Homo sapiens: one gene and its partners. The main gene of each other region encodes a partner of the protein of the gene in region 3 in a complex. Each region holds a gene or a part of one and is shown on either strand. Other genes may lie near its edges.

What was found. The genes of interacting proteins can lie anywhere in the genome.
Region 1: the proteins of BMP2 (region 3) and RGMA are in contact, whole or in part, in a crystal structure (PDB 4UHY), measured with the Homo sapiens proteins. Residues at the interface, in NP_001191.1 of Homo sapiens: Val308, Gly309, Trp310, Asp312, Trp313, Met371, Tyr373, Leu374, Asp375, Glu376, Lys383, Tyr385, Met388; in NP_064596.2 of Homo sapiens: Arg91, Arg94, Gly95, Leu97, His100, Ser101, His104.
Region 2: the proteins of BMP2 (region 3) and HJV are in contact, whole or in part, in a crystal structure (PDB 4UI1), measured with the Homo sapiens proteins. Residues at the interface, in NP_001191.1 of Homo sapiens: Phe331, Pro332, Ala334, Asp335, Leu337, Asn341, Ile344, Val345, Leu348, Ser351, Val352; in NP_001366281.1 of Homo sapiens: Leu40, Asn43, Tyr46, Val47, Tyr86, Leu101, Ala102, Ser105, Ala106, His108, Gly109, Ile110, Asp112, Leu113.

What each region holds. Positions count from the first base shown.
Region 1 is NC_000015.10:93,044,210-93,051,230, forward strand, and holds part of RGMA (repulsive guidance molecule A isoform 3 precursor), read right to left. Parts: intron 1,497-7,021; coding exon 789-1,496; 3' UTR 1-788.
Region 2 is NC_000001.11:146,018,734-146,026,237, forward strand, and holds the start of HJV (hemojuvelin isoform a precursor), read right to left. Parts: upstream 3,003-7,504; 5' UTR 2,854-3,002; intron 1,606-2,853; exon of another isoform or gene 1,588-1,605; 5' UTR 1,499-1,587; coding exon 1,402-1,498; intron 1,002-1,401; coding exon 442-1,001; intron 1-441. UniProt on the Homo sapiens protein: Acts as a bone morphogenetic protein (BMP) coreceptor. Through enhancement of BMP signaling regulates hepcidin (HAMP) expression and regulates iron homeostasis.
Region 3 is NC_000020.11:6,770,675-6,777,695, reverse strand, and holds part of BMP2 (bone morphogenetic protein 2 preproprotein), read right to left. Parts: intron 1-7,021. UniProt on the Homo sapiens protein: Growth factor of the TGF-beta superfamily that plays essential roles in many developmental processes, including cardiogenesis, neurogenesis, and osteogenesis. Induces cartilage and bone formation.

The sequences.
Region 1 (7,021 bases), on a different chromosome or scaffold from region 3:
AGAGGAACAGAAGTCAAGGATCTCTTCTCTGTTTAGACATTTAGAACCAAGCACTTCGACTTTCTAAGCACAGGGTGGAAGGGGCAGGGGCCCAGGCCAGAGACGGGCAGCTGAGCAGGTGCCTGAAAACCGGGACCTGCACTGGTACCCACAGCAGCCAGGTGAACATGGGCAGGGAGGCCACAGGCCAGAAGGCACCAGGCGGGCACGACCTACTGGCCAAAAGGTTCCAGCAGTCTGCTAAGGTGCCAAGCAGCGCCCCGGGGTTGCCCTGCCTGGGGCCAAGCCCCAAGGATGCCTCCCTGTGTGGCTGGGGTGTCCCCGCTGGCCTAGGGGGATCGAGTGTGCTCTCGTGTAAGAGTGTGTGCGTGCGTGTGGCGGGCACAGGGGGCCCCACGGATCGGCGAGCAGCAGTCGGCCGGGCCTTTCAGTGCATTGCGAGGGGGAAGGAGCTGACTCTGACGGTTCCCAGTGTGTCTCTGGTGGGGGTGGGGGGCTTCAGCCTGAGGGGATGTTTCACACATTCACACTGCAGGGGCGGGGCGAGGGGAGCTGCTCTCCCTCTCACACAGCTCTACTGTCAAACATCATGGCACCAGTCACCACAACCTTGTCACGTGCACTAGAAGGGGAGGGGTCCGTGCCTGAGCCCTTGGCAGCAGGCGGTCCCTGGCGTTCTGCGGGGCCATGGTGGACACGCCAGGAGATCTGCACCCCGTGGGCGGTCCCAGCCCACACATGGGGAAGCCGAGAGGACGGAGCCCGCGCCTCCCTCCACATCTACGCGTCTAGCAGAACACAGGGAGCAGGGCCAGGAGCGGGACGAGGGCGCCCAGGAGGGGCCGGGGGGCCAGGGGCAGCCCCGCAGCCGCCCTGCCTGGCAGGTCCCGAGTCCTCTCATACAGGTGCAGTTTGTCTTTGTTGGAGTGGAGCATCTTGACATCCTCCAACGCGTAGTAGGCGGCCAGTGTGAAGTTCACGTCGCCCGTGGTGAGGAGGTCGAAGACGCAGGCCTGGTAGTACAGGTCCTCCACCGGCAGCTTCTCCTTGCACTTGGCCACGGCTGTCTCGTATGGGAAGGTCTCGGGGGCTGTGGGTGCAGGGCTGGCGGCTGCCAGCCTGCGGGCACCGGTGCCCTCAGCATTGGTGTGGAAGGCCTGGAAGTCGATCTGCTGGTTGAGGGGGCAGCCCCGCAGGCAGAGGTAGAGACCCTGGCTGTCCCAGTCCTCCACAGCATTGACCACTTCCTCTGGCATGCGGACGGCAAAGGTCAGGTAGCGGCCCACCTGGCGCACCACGATGGTGGTGCCGATGTACTTGGCCTGGATCTCCACGTGCTGGCCTGACACCTTCTCAGTGATCTTCAGGCTGTTGGCCCCGTGCTTGTCCCCACCGTTCTTAGAGCCATCCACGAAGGCGGCCGGGAGCTCGTCCATCTCAGCCTGGTACACCTTCTGGTCCACACACTCCTGGAAGTTCTTGAAGATGATGGTGAGCTGCCGGGGAAAGGGGCAGAGGAGAGTGGGTGAGGCACAGTGGGAGGAGGCACAGCCCCACACTTAAGATGCTCTAGACTGAGAGGAGGGCAGGAAGGATCCCCAGGGATGCCCCAGACACTCCCTTCTCCAGGTTGGACAGATCAGTTCCACCTGCGCAGCTGTGCACTTCACATTCTTTCAATGAAAACAACTTGCCCTTTTTACTTTAAAAAGTGACTTAGAAAAATGTTAGACCACTACCCTAAGTAGAAAACTAGCTCTTTTACTATATAGGGAAGTGAACCAGAAAAATAAAAGCATAGATAATTAAAAATAAAAGGTCAAAAGCCCAGTGTGGTAGGCTGAATAATGGCTCCCAAGAAGAACATGCCCTAATCCCTGTAACTTGGGAATGTTCCCTTAGATGGCAAAAGGGACCCTGCAGATATGATTAGGTTAAGAACACTGAGATGAAGAGATTATTCTGGATTACCTGGGTGGGCCCTAGATGGAATCACAAGTATCTTTATAAGAAGGAGGCAGAGGGAGATTTGACTAACTAGGACAGAGGAGAAGGTGATGTGCTCAACAAGGCAGAGATTCGAATGATGTGGCCACAAACCAAGGGATGCTGGCAACCACCAAAAGCTGGAAATGGCAATGAATGGATTCTCCCCTGGAGTCTCCAGGACCAGCCCTGCTGATACCTTGATTTTATCCCCACGAGACATATTCCCAACTTCCGGCCTCCACAATTATAAAACATTTCTGTTGGTTTGAACCACTCAGTTTATGCTAATTTGCTACAGTGGCGATAGGAAATGAATATGGTTTGCAAACATCATCTTGCATAATGACAGTGGTACTGGAGCACAATTCCTGACAAAGGACCCAAGCAAATGTCTGAACATTACAGCAGGTGGAATGGAGGGAAATGATGCTCAAAGAAAGAATGAATAGGGCAAAATCCATGCAAGCAGGCAGAGGCAAGCAGAAGCCACTGTCCCAAGGCTGCTGAAAGGGGTCCCCAAGCTGGGTCATGGAGGAGGGGAACAGGAAAGGAGCAAGGTGCTGGTCGGTAAAAGGGAGATGGAGGTTCCAGGCTGAACGGGCAGCCTTGGCCGGGGCTGGAGCAGGGAGGCTCCTTTCTGCTGGAGCCTGTGGCCAGGGGTGAGGGGCTGGACTGAGCTGCTGGAGCAGCAGCTGGCTGGGTGGCACTGTTCTCCTGAGAGCCAGACACAGAGGCATTGGCTGCATACAGCATGCTAAGCACTGCATGTATTACTTCCAGTCTCGTGTGACACTGCAAGGGTCGGTGACATTACTCTCAATTTTCCGGATGAGAAAATGTAGGCTCAGAGAGAGGCAGTAACTTGCCTAAGGTCACACAGCCAGCAAGAGGCAGAGCTGGGATTAGACTCTGCGTTTCCAGACTCTGGGCTCTCTTGGCCACAAGCCCATAGGGTGGGAGGCCTGAGAGGAGGAGGGCCGGTGGCCAGGGGAGCAGGTGAGTTTCCTCTGCCGTCCGCGTCCTGGGTGGCGTCTGGCTGTTCTTTCCTCCCTAACCCTAAGCAGGTTTCTGGGTTGGAAACAGAGAAACTGGGAGAGAAAAAACCACCCCTTCTTCCACTCCTTTCCCAGGTGTCAGCTGTTTTGCCATGGGAGCTCTGGGTGCCTTGGTCCCCCTGGACCAAGGGCAGCTGGAACCTGGACTCCCAGCCTGAAGCCACGAAGGGAGGTGGGGCAAAGGGGACAAGGTGGCACCCAGGCCTTTTGGGACCTCCTGCTAAAATCCCACCTTTATCTGCTGCACTACCCTCTCCCAGGCCCGGCAACTACCCCCACCACTAAGCCCCAACCCCTCACCCCTCTGTAGGTCAGGGCTCATCCCTCCCCACCCAGGAGAGGGTGTGGCCAGCTAGCTGGCTGGCTGACAGAGCTCCCAGGGGATCCCACCCCAACCTGGCCTCAGAGGGTCTGCAGGCTGAAGGGGTCTGAGCAAGGGGGAGCTGCTGATGACATGCACAGCCGTTCTCTGCCTGGGCACTTGGGGGAGGCATGAGGACTGCCTGCCGGCTCTCTGGGTAGAGGGCAATGCCGCCGCGTGCCAAGGGAGTTTCTGGCCTAACAGCAGATGTGTGGCGAGGGCACAGTGCGAGGTGCTAGAAAGCAACAGGAAATAACAAGCTGCTCTGATGGGGAAGGGCAGGCAGGGAAACCACAGAAGGACCTCAGCTCAGGCAGGAGAGTCGCAGGAAGGTGGAAGGTGGGGTCTGGCCAGGAATGCAGCATGAGGCCATCCTGTTCTCTGGGGCCCGGAGGCCAGGGGTGCAGCAGAGTGGCCTGTTTGGGGCGGGCTGGCCCAGGGTCATGGCCTCAGGACCAGGTGCTAAGAGGCCTGAGGCCTGGAAAGGGGTTCCAGAACCTTCTAGGTAATACAAGCCAGTGGGGTATTCAGAGCCACTAGAGGTGCCCCTGGCCGTGTTGCTGTGGCTTTGTGGGTTCCCCATATTGGCATAAGATTTCGGGATGATGAGGTGGGGAGAACTGGTAGCCTGAGGGGTGTGGAACCCCCGGAAGAACAGAGGGAGACCCTAGGCCAAGGCTTCTGAAGAAGGAAAATGTGTTAGTCAGGCAAGGCTGGGAGGAGCTGAACGAGGGGCAGGCTGCTGGAGGACTTTACAAGAAATGGCGGTCTTCTCATGAGCCCGTTCATCTTGGGCACCCGGCGCTGTGCTTTCTGTGCCTGATGGAGGCTGCGGAGGGTCGGGGCTCTGCGGGAGTCCATGCAGCAGCACCAGGAGGACCCCAAGCGCACAGTTCCTTGAGGACCGGACTCGATTTCCTCGCATCCCTTCCTACAGGGGTCCCAGCCTGGCCGCAGGACACGGCACACTTCCCATTTGCCGTGGGATGTCAAAGGTGGCTGCGGCTGCAGCCTCTCCATCCAGCATGGAGCCCTAAGCCTCGAACCTGATGAGATTGCTGCTACTCTACCATTCCTGACCTATGGAAACGGCAACTTCATACGGTTCAGCCTCCTACTTCTTCCTTCTTTCCACCCACTGGCCAGCCCACCTCGGTGGGGAGGCCGCCTGGGGGTGCCGGAGGTGGGCCAGCCAGGGTGGTCTGGGCCGTGGGTGGTCCTGCCATGGGGGGAGGATGGGGGACTCTGGTGTCCCTGCCTGGTGTGCAGGGCCACACAGACACTGGGGGTGGGGGGGGGCGGCGTCCTGCTTTCCAAGTGCCATCAGTCTCCCTGGAACAGGAAAGGCTGGTTTCGCTCTAACCACCATCTCTCGCAGAGACAGCCTCCTGGAAGGCTGACAGGCTGCTTGACTCTTCTTGGCACCGGTGCCAGGGACTCAACCGCAAGTAACAGCATGAAGGGGGCCTGTCGAAAGCTGGCGGCTCGCTGCCAACACAGCCACGGGCGGGCTGCCGCTCCTGTCTCTGCTGCTCCCCCTTCTGAAGGGGTCCTGGCCCTTTCCACTGCACCGGGCACGAGGCAGAGCCCAGGCTGCATCAGCTACTATCTACGGAGCACCACCTCCATGCCAGGCCTGGTGCTGGGGGCTCGGGGTACACGAGGGAGAAGATCCCTATGCTTCAGGGGGTCGCAGACTAAGCAAATGAATCATGCAGAGGGACAGGCTGGCAAGTGCTATGGGGAAAACTAACCAGCGGGGAAAGGAAGGGGAAGGCGCAGGACTTGAGTTCCTGTCCTCTCCTGAGTCTCAGTTTCTTTGTCTGTAAAATGGGTATCAGCAGCACAGATGGGAAGAGGGTGATGGAGCAGGAGGCTGGGCACAGAAGGCTGTCCCACGGGGGTAAGACACTGGCTAAAATGTCCACGTAGAAAACACTAGATCTTGATCGTCCACAAGAACAGAGGGATTGGCTGATTGGCTGATACTGCCAGTATCATGAGAAACAAATAAAGGCCCCTAGTGATGCCCGGGTGTTTGGGGGCAGCTTCATGCACACACAGCTTGCACACGGAGCTTCTGCACAGGAAGGCAAATCTCATAGCTGCAAGGTCAGGGTCAGGCCAGGCAGGGGCTGGACACACTCTGGGAAGCCTGAGGAGAGGCCCTCAAGGGCAGGTGTGCAGGGACAGATGGAGTCTCTGGCTGCCTGAGAGGGGAAAGGGGAGTGGGTTCCAGTGGGTGGTAGAGTCTGGCAGGCCCAGAGGGCTCTGTTGGTGGTAGTCGAGGTGGTCACAGAAACCCAGAGGCCTCATCATCTTGGAGATGAAAGTCCCTTGCCTTTCCCTGCTCCCTGCAGACACCAGGCTGCTCTCCCACTCCGCCTGCTTTGGATGTCGACTCCTCTGTTCCTCCATCCGGAAACTTGCGCTGTGCTTCAGGGGCGAGCTTGGTGGATGGGCTCCCCAGTTCTCTGGACAGAGCCAAGGCTCCCAATGGCCTTCAACATCCTGCTGCCCCAGCCTCCATCGCCAGCTCCCCTTTGCTGGTCTTTGCTCTTCACTAGCCTGGGAGCTTCTGGGAGGGAGGGCAACAACTAGCTCAGAGGCTGGCACAGATGCAACGTCTGTTAAGTGTTTGCTCCATCAATGAGTGAACAAACACACCTGAGTAACGGAGGCCTGACAGACAGGCGGGGGCAGGCCAAAGGTGCCTGAAGCCAGCCACCGACGTTCTCACCGGGGGACCACAATACCCCAGTCTGGCCCGAGTTCTGAGACTGACTTGGCCACAGACACTGACGCTGTCACTGTCTGGCCTCCAGCAGAGCCTGGTTGACAGGGCTGAGCTCTCAGCCTGCTGAGATCAAAGGTGGCCTTCGGTTGCAGCAGAAATGGGCTGGGTTGGTGAAGCTCTGCTTCATACTCTTCTGGAAGCCTCCATGCTGGGATAGGAAGGGAAGTTCTCCCTCCACTGCTCCACCCCGTCACATCACCCCCATCCATAATGGGGGCAGCAGCCCAGCCTCCCTGCACACAAATCACAAATCCTCCCCGGTGCGTGGCTTGGCTCTGTTGTCGCATTTGGTGCTTCCACCCCCTGGGGTCTGGAGGAGCGAGCCACCTGGGGTCCACATCCCTCTCACATCCTCAGACCTCCCTGTGCGCCCTGCCAGCCCTTGGGAACCTGCAGGATGGGACAGGGAGGCCAGGTCCCCTCTGAAGCGTGCTGGTGCCTGGATTTAGAAGCTGCAGCCTCAGGCTCCTGGCGTCCGTCTGTCTTGGCTCTCAGGAGGGCGGGTGGTGGGGAGGTGCAGGGGCCGTGGGGGAGGTGGCTGGGTCCTTGATGCAGGCAGGCCCTGAGTATGCGGAGGGCTGCGGGGGCACAGGGTGGAGTGTACCGGCTGCAAGTCTTCTCCATTAGGTGTCATGTTGTGGTGCCAAGGGCCCGCTTGGGAATCCACAGGGCGAAGACCTGCTTATTTCCCGCCCAGCCAGGGACCAGAAAGTGACCCCCTGCAGGCAGGCAAGGGCCACCGGAGCAGAGGGAAGTGGCAGGGATGGAGCATTTCCTTGGCTGCCAGGTCACCTCGCTGTCCTCCTCTGGGTGTGGAGG
Region 2 (7,504 bases), on a different chromosome or scaffold from region 3:
GGTTCAGTGCATCTTCCCCCCAATCAGACCTCATACATAGTTAGAGATCTGATCCAAGTAGAGATGCAGGACTACTATGGCCCTCAATCCTTGATCCCTTCTCCTATTTATGTTCCAGTATTACCTCATCCCTACTTAACCCCCTCTCTACTTAATCGTGGCAACTTCCTAGGAGAGGGAAAAGTTTCCCTTCTGAAACTCCTCAGGTCCGCCCTCTCCGACTGTCTCTTCAAGGTTTTCTGCATTTGAGTCAAATTCCCATCAAGGGGAAGTGATTTACAGCTCCAGGTGTTTGGTAGAAGGGAGTGATTCGAGATGGGGGAGAGGTTGAGGAAGAAAAGGGAATTAGGGAGCATTGCTGTTGAATAGTGGGGATGGGGAGGAATGGTGCCCGTGGAAGAATCTCATGAGGTGGATCGGAAGGAAGATTGAGTGCCTGACCTTCCGGGTGGCGGTAGCGTTGGCCCCCAACGCCATGGGGGAGCTGGTGGCTTGGACAAAGAGGAAGTCATTATCCAGTAGAGGCCAAGCTCCTTGGACACGGCATGTGTGAAAGTGATGGTGGAAGCTGCGCACATGGGGGTCCCCGAAGGAAGCGCAATGCAAGAACCCCGGGGGACGACCATGCAGCCGGGAAAACCGGCCTTCATAGTCACAAGGGTCCGGGGCAGGGAGGCCGGAGCCCGCGCCTGGAAGGGCGGGGCCCCGGGGCGGGGGAGGGGCTGTAGGGCCCTGGCGGGAGCAGTTGTGCTGGATCATCAGGTCTTCGATGCCATGTACCGCCGAATGGAAGGCGAGGTCCCCGCGGCAGGTGCGGGCGGTGCGCCGAGTGCAGAGCGCATAGGAGCGGAGGGCTCGACAGAGGCCGCCAGAGCCCACCCCTCCACCCCGGCCTCCTCCTCCTCCTCCTCGAAGTGCTCCTGATGAACCCCCACCTCTAAGGCTCAGAGTGGACGATACGTACTCAGCATTGCAGCGGAGGATCTTGCATTGAGAATGAGCTAAAGACAGAAGGGAGAGGATTGTGAGACGGTCCTCAGACCTCTGCTCTATCGGAGTGTAGTTTGCTCATAACTCTTCCAAATCTCATCAGGGGTTTCCAGCCTTCCTAAAACCTAACTAAGGGCCTTCCCCAGCCCCCAACCCCCTAGTCCCTAGTTCTCTCGGCTGTCTTACTAAAAGTGTGTAAGCCTGCCACATCTCTTCTGCCTGTCGACCAAGGGCTTCCCCAGTGGCCTTCCCCAGACTGAACGGGAAATAAAATATTAGTATTTGAGAGCAGGGCGAGTGATCGGGACTCTCAGCGCCTATCTCTCCTCACTCATTCAGGCTCACATGCCCACCCCTACATAGCAGCCTACCCTCTAGATTTCCCCAAACCCTTCCCTGGCCCTTCCTTACCATGTCCACAGAGGAGCAGCAGGAGAGTGAGAGTGCTTAGAGTTGGGGGACTGCCATGGGAGGACCTGGGACTAGGGGACTGGCCTGGCTCCCCCATACCTATCCAGCCAGGTTTCCCAGGCGCCGGTTCTTCCCAGCTGATGACCCTCCTACCTAGTGAATTTTGACCGGAAGCCCTGTAAGTGACTGAAAAAAGAAATTTGGCTGGACATGGAGAGAGAGAAGAATTGAAGATTGGTAAGGATAATGTGGAGTGAATCTGGGGAGATCAAGAAAAGGATGAACAGACTGGAATTTGGGGAGATTGGAGTTCCTCAAACTATAAGTGTGGCAGTTAAGCCTCTTTGCCCTGTTCCTGTGGCCACTTTTAGGGCCCTTGTGCAATACCCCTAGGTGGGGGTGGAGGGAAGGTTGAGTGAACTCAAGGGGGCAGAGTCCACTGTATTGCTCCATTCTGAGCTACCAAACAGCAGGTATGTCAAAGATGGAGGAATCATGGGGCTAGATCAGATACCAGTAATCCTAGTGGGTACCCTAGTAAAATTAGGACCTGAAAATATTTCAGAAACATACTTCTTATTTGTCCCTCTCCATTAGGAGGAGATGCCCTCTAGGAGTCATACATTTCTTTTCCTCCTTTGTGTCAGAACACAAGAAGGATTAAGGGTGGCATACCCATCCCGTCTAGAATATCAGTATTCAAATGAAAAGGAAACCAATCTCTTTTCATCAGCTCTAGAGAGCTGCAATTTTAATCTCCCTCTCTCATGGAATAATGGGATGCAAACCAAACATGCAAATCAATATTTGTTTTTTCTAAGTCAACAGTTCTTGTATTTTCCCAAATATCACTCCTTCCATTAATCTCTTCTTTTCAAATTCTGAAGTTCTCAGTCTTTTATGATGACAGGAGTTGGAGAGGGGCTAAATCCCTCCTGCCTAACTCCCCTATCTTATGGGTAAGGATATGATTGGGGGAAGAGTCCTGCAAGAGGGAGAATAGAATGGAGGGACTAGAGTTGTGGGGAGAAATCATTTACAGGGAGCAGCCCCCATGCTTGGAATCTCAATGTGAAGGGCATTGCTAAGTGGGGGCAGGATAGAAGGGTATCAGTGACTCATCATCTGAGGTCATATTTGGCCTTGGTAAGAAAACTACAGAATAGAGGACGTAGGGAACTCCTTCTAAAACTTCATCAGGAGTCTTGAGGTAATAAGGTAAAGAGAGGGCTAAGACTGCCAGAGGAGAGACAGAGAATTAAACTTCAAAAAGCTAGAGGCCAGAGGCCAGAAAGAAATAAGACAGAAAGAGAAATGGAGATTGGGGCACCTTGGTAGGGAGAGATCCCAGCATTTGGACGAGAGACATCCAAGTAGGTGTTTGTAATTTTATAAAAGTCTAACTTCAATATAAAAGCTTATTAAAGGAATTGCAATTTCATTTTGACTTACTGTTTCCAGAGGTCAAACATTACTCTGCTATCCAATTCTCCAGCCATGATTCCCTACTCTGTGGGTCAGCTCCAGCCAGGGGGTCCTCCGTGTCTCCCCCAGGTCCCCAGGCCGGCTGCTGTCTCACTGAGGTCAGGGAACCAGAGAAGGTTTGGTATGGGGGGAAGGGGGAGTATATGGCTGGCCAGAGTACTGGACAGCTGAGCAGGGAGGGAGGTGGCTACTGAGTTGACGGTTTTAAAAATAGCTAAGTCCAAAATTCCAGGAACGTTGGTGGGGGTAGGGTGTGGGAGTTGGGGGAGTGGGGAGGGTTAGAGGATTAGAAAGAATATGGAGTATTGAGTGCCAAGTCAGGGAGGGAGGAGAGAAATATGACAGACAAGTTGGATATCCAATTCCAGCTTGTGTGACTCTGTGGTCACTGCCTACTCCAGGCAGCCCTCCAGCATTTTCAATAATGTTGAGCTCCTGGCCTTTAAAAATTACAGTGGGCAATTGGATACCTTTCATTTACCATGTTCATCCCTGCTATGCTGAATATTACATTTAGGTTCTACAGATAGTATCTAGGAGGTAGCTGACTTTGAATAAGATCCATAGCAGAGGTAGTTCATAGCCCCTCTCCTATCTTTGCAGAGTATTTCAGAAGGACGAAAAAAGCCAGCTGTCCAGAGAAGAAATCTGAGCTGTGAGTTGCTTAGGATGAGGGTTTGTTCAGTCTATCCAGCTCAGATCCTTGCAGCTGTCTATCCTCCTACCTACTCCATTTTCATTACTTTAGTTTGTACAGCAATTCATCTTCCTCTCCCTCATGAATACACAAAAAATAAAGGCTCCCGATTTGCTTGGAGAGAAGGCTAACAAAGGCAAAGAGGTGAAGAAAGAATGGAAATAGAATTCTTCTAAAGAAAGAGTTGGAGAAATAGAAAAAGATTCAAAAATATACTTTTCCTTCCTTCCTTCCTTCCTTCCTTCCTTCCTTCCTTCCTTCCTTCACTCCCTCCCTCCCTCCCTCCCTCCTTCCTTCCTTCCTTCCGAGATGAGGTCTCACTATGTTGACCAGGCTGGTCTTGAACTCCTTGCCTCAATGAATCCTTCCATCTCAGCCTCTCAGAGTGCTGGGATTACAAGTGTGAACCAACATGCCTAGCCTCAGAAAGATACTTTTATGGAATAACATAATCTTGTGACCATAAATATTGCAAAATCTCAGCACTTTGGGAGCTGAGGCAGGAGGGTCACTTGAGCGCAGGAGTTTGAGGCTGCAGTGAGCTATGATAACGCCATTGCACTCCAGCCTGGGCAACAGTGAGACCCGCCCCCCCACCCCCCTTAAAAAAGAAAAGAGATACTGCAACCAAGGGATTTAGCCATGTCATGTTTTTGCAGCCATAGGTATATCTGAGATCATCATCTTTTAGTACTTGCCAAGTGAAATTAACAGAAGGACCGATTCCAAATACGGTCACTGTATTAGGGTTCTCTAGAGGAACAGAACTAATAGGGCATATATCTATATCTGTATCTACCTCTATCTATATAGAGATCTATATCTATATCCATGTCTATCTATCTAGCCATCTAGACTGGCCATCACCAGTCTGCTTTCTGTCTCTCTAGATTTATTAATATCTATATAGATATGGATATCTATATAGGTAGATATATAAATAAAGGGGAATTTATTAAGTATTAACTTACACAATCACAGGGTCCCACAGTAGGCTGTCTGCAAGCTTGAGGGGCAAGGAGAGCCAGTCTCAGTCTCAAAATTGAAGAACTTGGAGTCTGATGTTCAAGGGCAGGAAGCATCCAGCATGGGAGAAATATGTAGGCTGGGAGGCTAGGCCAGTCTCTCCTTTCATATTTTTCTGCCTGCTTTTTATTCTAGCTGTGCTGGCAGTGAATTAGATTGTGCTCACCCAGATTAAGGGTGGATCTGCCTTTCCCAGCCCACTGACTCAAATGTTAATTTCTTTTGGCAACACCCTCACAGACACACCCAGGATCAATACTTTGTATCCTTCAATCCAATCAAATTGACACTCAGTAATAACCAACACAATCACTAAGCCATCTTTACCAGTTGGCTCTATTTTAATACAGAGTCTAGAGGCCCTCATAGCACTCTTCTCAGGTATATATATGACAAATATTTTTGTCAAATATATACTTCTCAGGTATATATATATGACAAATATTTCTCAACCATTAGAGGCCATATCACAAGCAGTTTCATTATAGAAATGTAAAATGCTTCTAACCAAACTATTCAAGTGACTTTAAAACATAATAATTTGACTATGACAGCCTAAGTGGGATATACTATAATGCCAGAAAATAAATGCAAAAATATTTTTAAATAGCCATATTATGGTGTTAGTGTTGGTATTGTTATTCTGAGATTATTTTAGTTATGAGATAAAACAAATGATTAATAATGTTAGTGTCTCTGAGAACCAGAATTTTTGGGGTGGAATAAAGAGATACATATTTACGATTGATGAAGTTAAGAGAAAACTCCGTAATTCTGAATTTAAATTGCAAATATAACTCTGAACTCATGGTTTATTTTATCCTTAAAATTTTCCTAGCTTTACCCTAAAAAGGCCTGGAAACAATGATCCAGTAAAAATAAACACCTCTAGTACTCAAATTGTGCTATGTAAATACCATTTTCTGTTAAAAGGGACCAACAAACAACTCCTTGGATAAGTGGCTGATTTCAGGTTTGGGGCAGGTATTGTCCAAGATAGGCAAGGAAGCTTTCAAAGAGTGTTAGGATTGTAATAAAAGAACTTAGGAGCCAACTAGAATAGTTCCCATTGGCCAAAGATGGGGCAATTTAAGTATCAAAATGGATACTATCTGCAATGGATTGAAATTCATAAAATATGTTTAAATCCATGAATTCACAATGATACTTAAAAATACAAACCCATTGGTCATTGTTGGAGAATGCTGGCAGATCAACTCATTATTTTAAAAACTGCTGGTAATTGGAAAGAATCAAGTATTTATCCTGGTTTTCTTTTGGGAACTGTATCTCAAGATGAGGGGGAAATTTCTCTTTATAGAAGCATTCCAGTAAATAATTGAAGAAGGGATAATATAATTAGAATATCAACATTTTGTAAATCCAAATGAATTAATATATCTAGGCAATGGTCAACAATGACTGTGGCAGGGCACAGTGGCTCACACCTGTAATCCCAGCATTTTGGGAGGCTGAGGTGGGAGGATTGCTTAAGCCCAGGAGTTCAAAACCAGCCTGGACAACATAGTAAGAGCCCATCTCTACGTAAACAAAAAAACAGTGGCTGTTATTCATCATGAAAACAGAGATAAACATGTTTTCCTGATCATAGAGTACATAACTCCACCTTGCATGAAGTAGCCATACCAAAAACAAACAAACAAACAAACAAACAAACAAACCAGTCTGAATCTGATTAGAGCTAACTACTAATTTACAGGAAATACAGGAGACATTAAGTGGTAACTCAAAGGTGCAAATTCAGACTTTGTGAATACTCTACAGGACAAATGACCTGGGTTCGTTCTTTCTTTTCTTTTTCTTTTGAGACAGGGTCTCCCTCTGTCACCCAGAGATCTCGGCTCACTGCAGCCTCTGCCACCTGGGTTCAAGTGATTCTCATGCCTCAGCCACCTGAGTAGCTAGGATTACAGGCATGTGTCATCACACTCAGCTAATTTTGTATTTTTAGTAGAGATGGGGTTTTGCCATGTTGGCCAGGCTGGTCTCGAACTCCTGGGCTCAAGTGATCCGCCCACCTTGGCCTTCCAAAGTGCTGGGATTACAGGCATAAGCCACTGCGCCCTGCCAATATGTTCTTATATAAATATGTATATATTACATACACACACACAAATATGTGTGTGTGTGTGTGTGTGTATATATATGTATATTCTTCACATAGTCAATTGATATTGGAGAAATTTGACCATTATCTTTGTCAAAGCTCATTAACTAAACACCACTGGAAACAAATCTGTAGTCAAAAAAGTTAAATCTACTGGCTTGCTGTAGCAAGGGAGAGAATGCCCCAAAGGAATTATGGGACCATTTCCCTAAGGAGAGGTTAAAAGGAACCTCTTATAGAGTTTCAGCTTCTGTTGGATATTTCTGAACTACAGTTTAGAATAGTGAGGGCTGATTTTGTTGTTTGTTTGTTTTTTCCTAGTCTCTAAAACTCTGAATGAGGACTAATTTGGGATTGAATACTGTTAAGAAGTGGGGGCGTTTCAGTGATTGGGTGTCTAAATAATTCTTACCTAGGAAGCAAGAGGATTATAACCCAAATTGGTAAAGAGAAAAAAGCATTAGTTACTCATGTTAGTCTGAAGAGGGGATTATCTGGTCATTTTTGTGGTAGCAGAGTGGTGTGTCATCTCTCTTTTGTTGAGAATACAGTTGTGGTGTGGCTCTGATAAGCCAAGAGATAGTAACTGCCAACCTAGACTTCCATACTCAGCTAAAATATTATTCCAGAATTAAAAATAAGTAAAACATTTTCAAACACATCAAAACCTGAAGGAATTTACCAACAAAGATTCTTTTTTTTTTGAGACAGAATCTTACTCTGTCACCCAGGCTGGAGTGCAGTGGTGTGATCTCAGCTCACTGCAA
Region 3 (7,021 bases):
AACGATGACATTTTGCAAAGCACACCCTACTATTTTACTCAAAAGTCCAGAGACAAAGGCATTTACAGGGATCTACTTCTTTGGAAACGTATGGGTGGTACTAGGACACTGTAGTAATTAAGGCCAAACAATTTCAAGAGAAATAGCTTTCCCAACTGTTGTCTGTTCTCTCACCTCTTTATGACCTCAAATATCAAAATCTCATTTTAGATGCTTTTGGAAGAAAAATAAATGACCTGTCTTCTGTTTGCAATGCCTTTATAGTTTTGAAAGATAAACCATGTTAAAAAACCATGTACCTACCCAGTAATAGTGTGCAGGATGGACACAAAACCAAAAAAATAATAAAAATTTACAAAAATATGATTATGATCTCCATGACAAAAGGAACAGTCTCATCCTATTACAGAATAATCCTTCTATATCCACTATCATTATTTCAAAATAGCCATTTAAGTGGGCCATGCACAAAAGCTTTGTCTGATTTAAAATTTCTGAATTTCAATTTTTAAGAAGTATTATTCTCCAAGCAAGTAATATATAACACAGCACCTTGAATGCTTGTAGTCTGCAAATCATCAAAGGTACAACATTATTATTAAACTGGTAGTATATACCATGAGAGTTTGAGACATTTAAGTTTATTTTATTCTAACTTTACCACATCCTATCATTTCACTGCCAACAGAATTTGCCTGCTTCATTCAGAATTCCTACCCAAGTGCTAACAAAATCTATTTTGCCATCGTTCCATGTTATCATAAGAAGAGACTATGTTTTTATTAATTTTACAGTTGTATTTCCCCTAAAGACAAACAGCTGTAAGTTGTGCACTGAATCTAGATGCCTTAGCAAAGGAGAATCATGTCAGATCACTCACTCAAAGGATCTACCCGTGTAAGCCTTCATCATCAAAGCAACAGTCATCATGCAAGCTAAGTGGACACACCAAGTTCAGTCAGGGCAGTTTATACCAAACTAACGCTTTAATGCAGTGCTTTTCAAACTTCAGCCTTCACATAAAACAGCTTGTACACCGTAAAGCTTCAGATGCAGGCTCTGATTCAGTAGGTCTGGGGAGATGCTTGAGATTCAGCATTTCTAGCAGCTCCTCAAGGAGGGGATTCTGGGAACTGTAAGACCACACTTGGAGTGTCAAGGTTTTGCAGCATGTTTTTCATATTCCAGTATAGATTGCCAGGAGTGCATTTTTAAAGTGCCTTTTTGTTAAATAATATAAAAACTAGTAGAAGAACCATTAGTGGTGGCAAAGGAGTAAGAGTTGAATGGGCCAGCTCTGGGTGGGCCCAGCCAGGGTCTCAGAACAGAAGGTTCTTCTAAAGCTCTTCTACGTGGATATGGGGAGTATCAGGCCAATAGAGTCCTTTAGGGTTCCCTTGTGCCTATTAATCCAAACCTCTGGGGAATACCTTTCAGGATCCATCCACATTCTAAACTCCACTGGAAGCTAATGGTACTTTAGGCCAGACACAATCATTAAAATAACCTTCTGACCATTTGAACCTGGACTCTTCTCAGTGGCTCCCAAGGAGTACCAAGGACTGTGTTTGGCCTGTTTTTTTCTCCTTCTCCTTGCAATTCAGACGTTTCTGCTGAAGGTAATTTTTCAGCAGAGAAGGTAAAAGTCAGCAACCTCAGACCCCAATGACACCAAAGCCAGACCAGCACCTGAGCTACTGGCTTATCTGATAAGAATACATCTAAGAACACCCTCTTTTCTTTCAAAGAGGGGGAGGCAAGGAAAATTATCTAGAGCACTCGCTGACTAGCTATATTAACAAAAGTGCCCAGAGAAATCACAATTGCAAGAAAAACCCTAAATCCCAATGCATAAAGAAACATACATTCTCACACATTCTCTCTCTCGCACACACGTACACACCCACATGGCCAGACGATGACAGTGAAGGGACAAGCTACAAGTCAAGTATGAGGGACAGGTAAATGAAGTAAAGAAGATGGGTATAAAAAAGGTATGAAATAGAATAATAACCTCCCAAAAAATTAAATGACAAGATTGAATCATACAAAATTGCCACTATTTGACCAGAAACACAGACAACAACAATTTCATGTGGTTCAAGGTCTCAGTGGAAGTAGGCAGCCTTAGCAAAGGAGAATCAGTTAGTGGCCTTAAGAAAGGAGAAAAAATAGACGAGCAAATAATAATAGGCGATACGAAGATCTTTCTCTGACCTTCCCACTGCACCTCAGTGAATCTGTTTCTTGAAAGGTCCCATCCTCAAGACAAAAGCATCCATTGCAACACCCCTGGTTGCAGAAACAGGTCACAGAGGTAAGTTAGACGTTCACAGAAACCCTCAAACCCAGGAAAGTAACTGGCCAAGGTTAGGGAATATACGCTCATTTTCTTTAATCTGCCAGGGAAGAGTACGAATCTTTTCTTAAGGGTACAAAAATTAAAACCTATTTGAAATAAAGTAAATTAAATAAACAAACCTTCTATAAATCATCACAGCAACCCTGAGGATGCCAAAAATATATGGATCCTCAAGTAATGTATGCTTTTTTGGAGACTTATACAATTGCTAGTTTTCTGTAAATATCCCTTCCTGAATAAGCTGAAGTTCTTAAGGGATTTGAGGATTTCGACCTGTCTTTGACCCGAGTTTGTGAGCTTCTAAGTTCTTAACCAAATGGATGGAGCTATGGCTGCAAAAATGTGGGAAAGTGAAGAAAAATAAGACAACAATGATATCTGAACTTTTCTCCAAAAGTGAAGTCCTAATTTAATAATCTATACTATATCAATCATTCCTCTACCTCAAAATAATTCAAAAGACTGAGCTGAATTCTCTCAGTCAGCCTAGGTCCACTCTGGCCTCCTTTTCCCTAGAGAAGGAAAGGCTATAACATTAACAAAAGAAGTCATAATGATAATGACAGCTGAATGCTTTTTTTGAGTGTAATCTGGCACCATCAGCTTTATATGAATTATCTCACAACAAACCAATTAGAGAAAAACTATCATTATCTCCATTTTGTAAATGAAACAGTTGCAGTTCAGAGAGGTTATGTAACTTTCCTAAGGTCACAGAGCTAGCAAATTAAAAGTAGATATATATAATTGAATCTACTGCGCTTCTCAGGTTTCTTGTCTTTTGTTTTGTTTTGTTTCTTGTTTTTGTGACACAGGGTCTCACTCTGTTGCCCAGGCTGGAGTGCAGTGGCACAATCTTGGCTCACAGCAGCCTCCACCTCCCAGGTTCAAGCAGTCCTCCCATCTCAGCCTCCCAATTAGCTCGGATTACAGGCATGGGCCATCATACCTGGCTATTTTTTTATATTTTAGTAGAGATGTGGTTTCACCATGTTGGCCAGGCTGGTCTGGAACTCCTGACCTCAAGTGATCCACCCACCTAAGCCTCCCAAAGTGCTGGGATTACAGGTATTAGCCATCATGCCCAGCCAGTTCCCAAATTTCTGGCTACTAGATGGCACTACCTAACATACATGAGGACTCAAAAACTTAAGCAAAAGTCAAAACCATTAGGGGCACATTTATATTTAGTACAATGATAACATTGGGTGAGTTCTGTCCCAACTAAATGAACAGAAATATATGACTTAGGTATGATGGACAGAACAGACAGAAATGAGCAGAAAAGTGACGGGGCCCACTGGAATGTGTCTATTTTATAAGGAGCCACTGCTATTTTGTGGCTGCCCTTTTGTTCTAAATAAAGTATGGTAAGTTTTATCAAAAAAGTAAGTTACCGTTATGCTTCGAGGATTTTAAAACACACTTTGGGCTAAAAAATCTCCAGTAAAACAACAACAACAACAACAAAACCTGGGGATATGCTGGCAATCAGTAAGGCTGGAAGTCACTGCCCTAACACAAAATGAAAGAGGCTGAGTATAATATAAGATTTTCCAGATAATAAAATAACAGACAACTGATCAAGGAGAAAAAAAATATCAAATACAAAAGGTTAAAAACATTCCATTTTAAAAAAAATACAACAAGGGAATGGCAAATAAAGGAATAGAGAGCATGGTTGTCATCAACAACCCTGATTTGGCCTCTGCCCACCCTTAACACCAACACCTTCGGAATGATGAAATATTCTCTTATTGTCTCAGTGAAAATACACAAAGAGCAAGTCTAAGAACGCAAAATAGTTCACTGCAAAGGGATTAAGAGAAATTTAGGGGAACCACTAAAAAACAGGTGGAACGGAAAATGTCAGTGCCAAGGAAGTATCACTGGACACCAAAGCCTCAATCTCAACAACCATTTCCAAATAGAGTAATTTTCCTACTTAATGTGGCCTCTGTAATGACAATGAAATACCTGGGGCCACTAGGGAACCATACCAGGTAAGTATTGGTTTTGGTGGATCTATGTGTCCAAATCTGTTGTTTGCACGGGGGAATTTGTGCCACAAAGTCTCTAATGCAGGGCAATAGTTATTTCTTGAACTTTTCTATTATATGGATATTTTCATAATAATTATATTTGTGGAAAGAGGGTTAATCTCTATTTGAAAGCTTCAGTCACAGAGGCAAATAATCCAGTTATTTCATGTAGAAAGAAGACTGTGTCCTTCAGAGTGAGGAGAACAAGAAGCACCTGGTCTTTCTCTCTCCCATCTGACAAAAAAGCATAAAGACTTTTTGGAGGGCCAGTGAAGTCAACCAGTTTCAATGTGTTTCCAACTACAGCAATACACAAAACACTCTTTCCACTTGCAGAACTGACTTTTCTATGTTCAATGGCAGTTTCCAAAGGTCTATGTAGCTGAAGCACTTTTTAATGATCTTGAAAACAATAACATTTTAGCAAAGCTGATATTCTCCCAAATAAAAGCCACTGGAGAAAGGACTAGACAAAATTCAATAGGAAAAATACAACTGATAATTCTGTCTCAGATCCCCTATGATATGGTCGCATTATACTCATATTGGTTGAAAGAATGCTATCATGATATCTCGTCGAGTAATTCCACCAAACCATTCGATCACACCTACAAAGAAAACCCAACAGGTAATTCTTATGATTGGGTCTTTATGGTCTTTTTTCAAATAAATGCTCATTAATGCTGTAGAAACTAAATTCTGTTCTTGAGCCAGCAACCTTCATCACATGGTTTACCAAAAACTTTTTTCGTGGCATGCATGGCACAAGGATGTTTATCAAAAGCAAATCCTGGGTGTATACAACAATGATTAGTCTTGAAAAAAGTGCTATATCCATCCAGATTAAGGATGATATATTAGTCATAATGAGACAAGAAATGGATTAGTTGAAATTTGGGGCAAAATTACATAGCTTTTCTCCATTATCTAACTGCATTAAGACCTGAAGTTATTACAAGTTGATTTTAATCAAGTTGGTCACTTCTGTACTGTTTCTCAGGTAACATTTACACTCACAAAGATATAAATTCTGATTTTATAAACTCAAGCATGCTTTTTAAGTTAAAATAACACAGTTGAATAACGTGTAGCCTGTTTAGTTCTGATCAAACCACTTCTAGATGAATGATGAGAATATGCAGACATCACTGATAAAATCCTCACACAATGGAATGTTTTAGGTGTTAACTAACTTAAATGATCTTCCTTTTAAGTTGTAACAGAGACACAGCATCTTCCAGGCCTTAAAAATAAAGTTGAGAGCTTCCATGCTAAATTTCCAGAAGAGGTGTCTAAAACAGTTGTTCTTATTACATTCCTATACAAAAAAAAAAGTATTCTAATCAGCATTACCTGGGAATGATTAGCTGGATCTATAATCATTTCAGGGTTAAGATGGCAGAATGTACACATACACACAAATTTTACATATGACAACAGGTGATTTCTGCTTTCATTGGATGAATTCTGAAAGAGTGGAGTGAGATCTTACTGCCTTTCAAATCTGATTTCTGCTAGCAGAGAGCACCTCACTTAGAAATGTGCTTGTAAATGAACTGATGATCAATTCAGTGTCCCCGTCGTAATGTGTAGCTGCCTCAATGAGAACGTATCTTCTGCTATGTGGCTTGCCTTTGGGACTTATTCCCATTACCAACAAATACTCTCACAAGTATAAGTCACCCTTCACACTGGGAGAAAACATCTGGAAGTGCCATTTCCCATTAGTCTATTATCAGTGTAAATTTCCCACTTGAAATTTACCACCTAAGCAGGGAAAGGCAAGAAAGAGAACTTCACTCCCAACTCCCCAAATATCTGCCAAGTGGTTGCTCTGTGATATACACTTTTGTACTCTTTTCTAGGAATTGAAGAAACCCATGCTCTATTTTAAATGTATTAAGCCAAAGAAGCATTTAAAAGTGTAGAAAAAGAATTGAAGTGGAACATATTTTTGACTAATTGCTCTAAGAACTTAGGTACAGCAGACCTCAATAGCTGCTGTAAGACATTTCCAGTCCACTAAATGCCCTTCTGATGAAACAAGCAGAAATATCCCACCTTAGAAAAACCACATGTAGTATCATAAAAGAAAAAAAAATCCACATTTCGGTGCACATGAAAAAAAAACAGGCAGCTGCTACAAACGCTTTTATCTGAAGGCTTGCCTTGTCTCTACTCAGAGCCTATCTCAGATTTAAGCACAGGACAAGAAAGTCATTGTGGAAACAATAAGATTGATTGTAGTATTGATCTCCCACGGGGATTAGATTGGGATTCAAAATCTTCCAAACCAGGCCCAGATCAACTATAAATTAGAAAGACTTTGGGGCCCTGGGCTTTGATTTTTCAATACTATCTCTGAAAACTCTGCCCTTGGCTCTGTCTACCCTAAAACCCTGGCTTAAGCGGCAGATTTATAGAGCAAAAGCTTCCAAACAGACTTAAAGAAATCTCAATCTGCCTCCCTTTTTCTCCTTTTCCCTCTGTGGAATTCTTGCACGTTTAGCTGACTAGAGGCATGCCTTTTGCCCTCATCTTCCCCATCACTTGATTTCTCTCCAATTCTTCCAGGAGGAGTAGCTCTTCTGGCTGCAAGCCAGGAAGAGGGTGCGGA